Regions from separate parts of the Homo sapiens genome. Here region 2 is linked to region 1. Evidence: fine-mapped expression QTL. A gene starts in region 1. The other region holds a variant in brackets. All regions are shown on one strand. Distances are from middle to middle.

Region 1 (4,387 bases):
TTCACTTGACCCAGGGTCCCTCCAGCCCCTCTTGCCATGACAGCCTGTCCTGAGCCTAGTGTAGGGAAGTCCTCCTGCTGGGATTTGTGAGAAGCAAAGTCCACAGCTGCAAATAACGAACCACCTGCCTCCTGCCTCCTTCTCTGCCCCCGATGGCTCAGCTGACCATGGAACCTGCCTTGGCTGGCCACCCCTCCTCTGGAGTTTGCTCCCTTCCTTCCACATCATGCTCAGTCCCCAGCTGGGCAGCTGAGTGACATCACCTCCCACCACCTGGCCTAACCTAGGTGGCAGGTGACTGGGAGGGCTTTATGGGGCCACAGAGCTCCATTATCACCTACCTTGAAGTCGGCAGCTTGTCATGACATGTTAGCCTGGTGTGAGGAAGACCCAGCCAACCAAGGAGGCATGGGTTCAAGCCCCTTCCCCATCTGTGTATTGTGGGGTGAGGCCAAGCTGCTTGTAAGGTGTCATGTTTCTCTGCAGTCCTCCTGCCTGCCCCATAGGGCCTGTACCCCTCTCTTGAAGCAGTGGTGCCCTGCCTTCAACAGCAGGGGTGGGGATCAGTCCCTAAAGCCTTTTGACAAACCCAGGCCCCACATCCCCACTCATCTAAGGTCTGACACTTCCCAGCATGGCAGGGGTTCCTCCACATCCCAGATCACTGGGGCTCCAACTTTCCCAGCCCCCATTTAGGCCCAAGGAACTCTCACAGGGTTCCCTGGAACCTTCCTTTACCCCCACAGGAACCCAACTCCATCCACGGTCCCCCTTGCCAGCATTGGTCCCAATCCAATCCCAATTCCATGCTGGGCTGCTTCGATTCTTTTTTTTTTTTTTTTTTTTTTTTTTTTGGAGATAGGGCCTGGCTCTGTCACTTAGGCTGGAATGCAGTGGTGGCACGATCTTGGCTCACTGCAGCCTCCACTTCCCAGGTTCAAGCAATTCTCCCACTTCAGCCTCCAAAGTAGCTGGGATTACAGGTGCACGCCACCATGCCTGGCTACTTTTGTATTTTTAGTAGAAATTGGGTTTCACCATGTTGGCCAGGCTGGTCTCGAACTCCTGACCTCAGGTGATCCACCCGCCTCGGCCTCCCAAAGTGCTGGGATTACATGCGTGAGGCACTGCACCCAGCCAATCCTTTCTTCTCTAATTTCTCAGAGCGTCCTGGAAGTCCAGACAGGGTCCACACAGGAACCCCAACTCCTCCCTATCAGCCCGACCTCGGGGGGACATAGTTAGAGTATGAGTCATGGGGTCACTGGGCAGGCTAGACACAGTCAACGCCCCACACCCCCACACCCAGTTCCTAAGCTTCTGCCTCCGCTCACCTGCCCTCTGCATACTTGCCTTGGGGCCTGGAGCTGCCTCATCCCCGCCCAGATGGCGAGAAAGGGATCCCAGCAAACCCCTCCCCAGCACACCCCCACACCAACCCCAGGTCTCCCCCTACCAGTGACCCCATGGCCCCCATCCTGTCCCAGGGACCAGCTGCAGCGGGAGAGCAGTAGAGGGCACCCCCCACACCCAGAGGCGGGCCCGGCAGGTTTTTCAGGTCTGCCATTCTGACACCACAGCCGAGAAAGAAATTCCTGGCTGTAATAACTGTTTACAACCAAGATACCTCACCTGGGTGGCACCCCAACAGTTGGGGGGTCATTTCCACATCCTGCCACTATTAGAGCAAATACAAAATCTCAATGTCTGGGCCATTACCCTCCCCAGAGCCCCTGCTTCCTCCACTGCAGTGAACAAATCAGGCATAGGCAGGCAGGTGCCTGAGTAATGGTTTCTTAGTAGCCCAGTCTGGTCTTTCTTGGAGAGCTGGGCCCTGGGTTGGGGGAGGACAGAGGCTACTCCTGGCGGGGAGGAAAGGAAGCAGGGATAGGGTGGAGAAGGGGGGACTCATACTTCTCTTTTCCCCGATCCCTCCTCGTCCATTTCCGGCCGGGAATCGGCTTGGTGCCAGGAAAGGAAATTGGTGTTTTGGGCTTTGCCCCTGTCCTCAGGCCCTCCATTCTCACTGCCCCCCTACCCCCCCACCACCACCCTGCCCTGCATTGTTGGTGTGCCTCTCCCACAGACCTAGCTCTCTACCGAAGGGAACTTCAGTACACCCTGCCCCAGCTCCCCAATGCCCTTATCCCCCTCGCACCCTGGGCCCACTGCTCCCAGGTGCTCACCAATGCCAGAGAGTGCTGTGGGGTAGCCTCAGATACCTCAAAAATAGTTGTCTCGACCAGGCCCTGGCTCCGGCTGGTAGTGGCAGTCAGCAGCAGTGGCAGATGCCTTGGCCACCTCCCACTAGGTAATGGCCCAGCCTACCTGGCCAGGAACTGGGCCGGCCCACACCTTTTAACCCTTGCCTGTCTGCCACCAGGACTAGGGTCACCCCTGGGGGCAGTTTCAGGGCCAGGTCCACTCAGGGTGCTCAGCATGTCTAAGAAGACAGCCTGGGCCAGGCAGGGTAGCTGGTGCCTGTAATCTCAGCACTTTGGGAGGCTGAGGTGGGAGGATTGCTTGAAGCCAAGAGTTCAAGGCCAGACTGTGCAACATAATGAGACCCCCATCTCTACAAAAATTTTTTTTAAAACTGGCCAGGCATGGAGGCCTGTGCCTCCTCACCCCGTACACTTAGCAGAAAACTGGGAAGAAGGGCTGAGAGTGGTGGGAGTAGCAGCTGCCTCTCCTACTGCCCAAATTCCCAGAGGATTAGACGCTGCCCACCCAAGGGGCAACTTGGATCTGGGCCATAGAGGTGTGGGGAGCTGTAAAGTACATGGGAGGCTTCGGGTGTAAACTGAGTTTTTGTGTCTTGGCACTAAGCATCACATTCTGAGGCCCCTACCCTTTCCTCCCAGGGCAAGGCAGTGGTAGAAGGCCTTGGGGCAATTCCCACCCTCACTGGGGAATAATAGTTTCCCAAGTTGGGGACAGAGGAAGTCAACCTTTCTAAGGAGAGGTCAGGTCTCAAGATCCTTCTGTGGCTCCAGAAGAAATAATCTCAATAAATCAAGCACAACTTACACCCTACAAAACACTTATGGGTTTTGATCCCTCTTGGTTCCTACAAATGTAGCAGGATGGCACAGACCCAGCCTCCTCACAGCCATTTTATAGATGCAGAAGCTGAGGCCTGGAAAGGTGAAGAGGCCTGATTCAGATCACAGTGGCAGAAGAGCAGGTGAAATCAGAATTTCCGGGGGCTGGGTCCTGGCTGGGAGGCAGACAGAGGCTACTCCTGCAAGTGGGAAGGAGAAGTAGGGAAGGGGGCTCATGCTTCTTCACATCCATGCTGGGTCTCTCTTCTTCAGAGAGTCAGGCTTCATGCCAGAGAAGGAAATGAGAGCTTTGAGTCCTTACGACGTACTGTCCCTGCCTCCCCTCACCCCGCCCACCACCACCACCATCACCACCACCACCATCACCACTACCACCTGAGCTCTGGGCCAGTCCCGGCACACAGCACACATCCTGTGCTCCATTCAGGACCATCTGCTCTGTGACCCAGGGCCCAAGCCCTACCCAGACCCCTGCAGCAGCCCACACCATGACCTGAAGTGAGAAAAGCTGCAGATGGGCTGAGCCTAGAGAGGAGCTCACTCTGAATCAGCAATGCCCCAGACTCATACTATTAAGGCCTCCCGCCATCCCTGCCCACCTTTCTTCCTGGGTGTGAGATTTCCAGCATGGAACACAAAGGCCCCTTTCATCGCCCTCCCCACTTCACTGCCTGGGGCGGGCAGTGGTAAGGTGGGCATTGGGGAGTGTCCTCTCGGCCACAGCCTCTCCCACCTCTTATGGGCCACCAAAGATGTTGGGAAGTGAGACAGTAATAAAATCAGAGCCAAGAGGGATGAGAATCTGGCTGGCAATGTAGATTGAGTCTCAAAGCTTAGGTCTCCTCATCTGTAAAATGGGTAAAAGGTGGTTACAGAGACAATGGAGGCCCCAAATAACTTTGAAAGGCATTTCAAAGTGCAAGGAAACACACCATGTCATTAATGACTCTTACTAACAACAATTAATACACTCACACAGAGGTGGGCTGTTGTGGGGGTAACTGGGGGAGAGCAGGTAACTGGACCTCCTGGGCCAGGCAGACAAATGGGGCAGTCACTAACACACATCATTGCCCTGGTCCATGACTTTTAATAGCCTCGAAGAGGACCCAACCTCTAAGCCCTACCCCAGCTGGGCCCTGGGCCTCACGTGACCCTGCTGTCACTAGTAAATGGTGAGTCTGGGATTCAACCCAGCTCTGCCACTTACTAGCTGTGTGACTGCTTGAACAAGTCACTTAACCTCTCTGTGCCTCTCTGTCAATTGGGGACGATGATAACAGTATGTACCTCACGGGGCTATTGTGAGCATTAAATCAGTT
Region 2 (4,387 bases), 45 kb after region 1:
AGAGATGGGGTTTCGCCATGTTGGCCAGGCTAGTCTCCAACATCTGGCCTCAAGCAATCCACCCGCCTCGGCCTCCCAAAGTGCTGGTATTACAGGATCCCTGAAGTTTTAACACTCATTGCCTCATAGGGGAGAGGATTGACTGAGAACAGCTGGGAAAGAACTGGGGTGATGTAAACATTCTTTTTTTTTTTTTTTTTGAGACAGAGTCTAGCTCTGTCGCCCAGGCTGGAGTGCAGTGACGCGATCTCAGCTTACTGCAACCTCCACCTCCTGGGTTCAAGCGATTCTCCTGCCTCAGCCTCCCGAGTAGCTGGGATTACAGGCACCCGCCAGCACACCCAGCTAATTTTTGTATTTTTAGTAGAGACGGTGTTTCAGTGTGTTGCCCAGGCTAGTCTTGAATTCCAGACCTCGTAATCTGCCCGCCTTGGACTCCCAAAGTGCTGGGATTACAAGTGTGAGCCCCCGCGCCCTGCTGATGTAAACATTCTATATCATGATAGGGGTAGGAGCTACTTGAGTGTATTCTTTTTTTTTTTTTTTTTTTAGAGACGGAGTCTCACTCTGTCACCCAGGCTGGAGTGCAGTGGCGCGATCTCGGCTCACTGCAAGCTCTGCCTCCCAGGTTCACGCCATTCTCCTGCCTCAGCCTCCCAAGTAGCTGGGACTATGGGCAGCCGCCACCACGCCCGGCTAATGTTTTGTATTTTTTTTTAGTAGAGATGGGGTTTCACCATGTTAGCCAGGATGGTCTCGATCTGACCTCGTGATCCGCCAGCCTCGGCCTCCCAAAGTGCTGGGATTACAGACGCGAACCACCACACCCGGCCAAGTGTATTCTTTATCAGGCTGCTGTGAATTTTGATTTGTGAATTTTACCACATGTAAATTTTACCTCAAAAATGCCTGTAAACAGGCTGGGCGCGGTGGCTCACGCCTGTAATCCCAGCACTTTGGGAGGCCGAGGCGGGCGGATCACGAGGTCAGGAGATCGAGACCATCCTGGCCAACACGGTGAAACCCCGTCTCTACTAAAAAAAATACAAAAAATTAGCCGGGCGTGGTGGCAGGCGCCTGTAGTCCCAGCTACTCGGGAGGCTGAGGCAGGAGAATGGCGTGAACCCAGGAGGCGGAGCTTGCAGTGAGCCGAGATTGCGCCACTGCACTCCAGCCAGCCTAGGCGACAGAGCAAGACTCTGTCTCAAAAAAAAAAAAAAAAAGAAAAAAAAAAGAAAAATGCCTGTAAACAATGGGTTGGGTATGCTGGCTCCCACCTGCAATCTGGGCACTTTGGGAGGCTGAGACAGGAGGATTGCTTCAGGCCAGGAGTTGGAGACAACCCTGGGGAACATAGTAAGGTCCCTGTCTCTACTATATATATATGTGTGTGTATATATATGTATGTGTGTGTATATATATATATGTATGTGTATATATAGTGTGTGTATATATATATACATATCTATCTATCTATCTATATATTTTTTGAGAGTCTGGCTCTTGTTGCCCAGGCTGGAGTGCAATGACGCAATCTTGGCTCACTGCAACCTCTGCCTCCTGGCTTCAAGCGATTCTCCTGCCTCAGCCTCCTGAGTAGCTGGGATTACAGGCGCCCGCCACCATGCCCAGCTAATTTCTGTATTTTAAGTAGAGATGGGGTTTCACCACGTTGGCCAGGCTGGTCTCGAACTCTTGACCTCAGGTGATCTGCCCACCTCAGCCTCCCAAAGTGCTGGGATTAAGGTGTGAGCCACCATGCCCGGCCTACAAATTTTTTTTTTTTTTGAGATGGAGTCTCACTCTGTCGCCCAGGCTGTAGTGCAGTGGTGCGATCTCGGCTCACTGCAACCTCCACCTCCCAGGTTCAAGCGATTCTCTTGCTTCAGCCTCCCAAGTAGCTGGGACTACAGGCACGTGCCACCAATCCCAGCTAATTTTTTGTGTTTTTAGTAGAGACGGGGTTTCACCGTGTTGGCCAGGATGGTCTCGATCTCCTGACCTCGTGATCCGCCCGCCTTGGCCTCCCAAAGTGCTGGGATTACAGGCGTGCGCCACCGCCCCCGGCCACAAAAAAATATTTTTTTTAAAATTAGCCAGGCGTGGTGGCATGTACCTGTAGTCCCCACTACATAAGAGGCTGAGGTGGGAGGATCGCTTGAGCCCAAGAGTTTGAGGCTGCGGTCAGCTGTGATCACACCACTGCACTCCAGCCTGGGTGACAAAGTGAGACCCTGTCTTAAAGAAAAAAAAAAAAAAGGTCTGGGAGGCTGAAGTATGAGAATTGCTTGAACCCAGGAGGTGGAAGTTGCAGTGAGCTGAGATCGTTCCACACTGCACTCCACCCTGGGTGACAGAGCAAGACGCTGTCTCT[A/T]AAAAAAATATATATATATATCTGTAAACAAATATTGTACTCTGGTAAGTAGATTTGCTTTTGTAGTGGTGTGGGTTAGGCAATTCTGAAAATTCCTTTGTGTAATCTAGGTTTGAGGAAACAAGTAATTAGGAATAATGGGAGTTAGATTACTTACTAAAAGAGTGACAAATATGGATGGGGAAAACAAAAGTTTACCCTGAAGTGTTGAATTGGAATTGGAGGTATCAGGATGATCTCATGGTTTTATATATAGACAGAGAAAGAGAGTTATGTTATAAAGAGAACTAGTGTGCATGTCTGTGTATGTGTCCCCTGTCTGTTCACTGAGAGGGCCTACAAACAGATATATCTCTAGCAATGAGCAATAAGCGCATCTAGGGTACAGATTTGGTTTCATTTTCATTTTTCTATTTTTCTTCTTTTTTTTTTTTTTTGAGATGAAGTCTCGCTCTGTCACCCAGGCTGGAGTGCAGTGGTGCGATCCCAGCTCACTGCAATCTCTGTCCCCCAGATTCAAGCAATTCTTGTGTCTCAGCGTCCCGAGCAGCTGGGACTACAGGTGTGTGCCACCGAGCCCGACTAATTTTTGTATCTTTAGTAGAGAGGGGGTTTCACCACGTTGCCCTGGCTGGTCTCAAACTCCTGGTCTCAAGTGATCCACCCACCTCGGCCTCCCAAAGTGTTGGGATTACAGGTGTGAGCCACCGCGCCCAGCCGGTTTTTCCATTTTAAATTATGTCTTGAAATAATTTCGGATTAATAGAATAGTTGCAGCTGGCCCGGTGGCTCATGCCTGTAATTCTAGCACTTTGGGAGGCTGAGGCAGGCTGATTGCTTGAGCTCAGGAGTTCAAGACCAGCCTAGGCAATATGGCAAAAACCATCTCTACAAAACATACAAAAATTAGTTGGGTGTGGTGGTGGGCGCATCTACAAAACATACAAAAATTAGTTGGGCCTGGTGGTAGGTGCCTGTGGTCCCAGTTACTCAGGAGGCTGAGGTGGGAGGATCACTTGAGCCCAGGAGGTCAAGGCTGTAATGAGCCGTGTTCATGCAACTACACTCTAGCCTGGGAGACTAGAGTTGAGACACTATCTCGAAAAGGCTGAAAGGCTGGATGCAGTGGCTCATGGCTGTAATCCCAGCACTTGGGAGACCGAGGCAGGTGGATCACCTGAGGTCGGGAGTTCAAGACCAGCCTGGCCAACGTGACAAAACCTCATCTCTACTAAAAATAAAAAAAAAAAATTTTAAATTAGCCAGGCTTGGTGGCAGGCACCTGTAATCCCAACTACTAGGGAGGCTGAGGTAGGAGAATCACTTGAACCCGGGAGGTGGAGGTTGCAGTGAGCTGAGATCACGCTATTGCACTCCATCCTGGGTGACAAGAGCAAAACTCCATCTCAAAAAAAAAAATAGCCAGGTGTGGTGGCGCATGTCTGTAATCCAGCTACTTGGGAGGCTGAGGCAGGAGAATAGTTTGAACTGGGGAGGTGGAGGTTGCAGTGAGAAGAGATCGCACCATTGCACTCCAGCCTGGGCAATGAGAGCCAAACTCCATCTCAAAAATAAATAAATTAATGAAAAGTCTGGGCACAGTGGATCACGCTTGTAATCCAAGCACTTTCGGAGGCTGAGGCAGGTGGATCACCTGAGGTCAGGAGTTGGAGACCAGCCTGACCAACATGGTGAAACCCCATCTCTACTAAAAATACAAAAATTAGCCAGGCATGATGGTGCATGCCTGTAATCCCAGCTATTTGGGAGGCTGAGGCAGGAGAATTGCTTGAACCCGGGAGGCAGAAGTGGCAGTGAGCTGAGATCTCGCCACTGTACTCCAGACTGGGCAATATGAGCAAAACTCTGTCTCAAAAAAAAAAAAAAAAAAAAAAAAGTTGGCTGGGCCTGGTGGCTCATGCCTGTAATCCCAGCACTTTGGGAGGCTGAGGTAGGCAGATCACTTGAGGTCAGGAGTTTGACACCATCGCCTGGCCAACATTGTGAAACCCC

Which allele goes with the higher level. Alleles are on the strand shown, and positions count from the first base shown. SD is a standard deviation of normalised expression in the study named.
For the expression in testis of the gene that starts at base 2,283 in region 1, A is the high allele of the variant in region 2 and T is the other (moderate effect, 0.44 SD a copy in GTEx).

The links. PIP is the estimated chance that this variant, and not a neighbour inherited with it, causes the effect. A credible set is the group of variants that fine-mapping cannot tell apart.
Region 2: its variant is the best candidate, but not a certain one, in a credible set for the expression of CCDC120 in testis (GTEx, PIP 0.57).

Annotation. Positions count from the first base shown.
Region 1 is chrX:49,056,895-49,061,281 of GRCh38, reverse strand. It overlaps CCDC120 (coiled-coil domain containing 120), which reads right to left and starts at 2,283. Exons shown (of 11, transcript NM_001163321.4): 1 at 2,187-2,283.
Region 2 is chrX:49,011,400-49,015,786 of GRCh38, reverse strand. No RefSeq gene overlaps it. Among named protein-coding and RNA genes, the nearest start is that of GRIPAP1, 11 kb to the right of the region's middle. The variant A/T (reference allele first, on the strand shown) is at 2,375.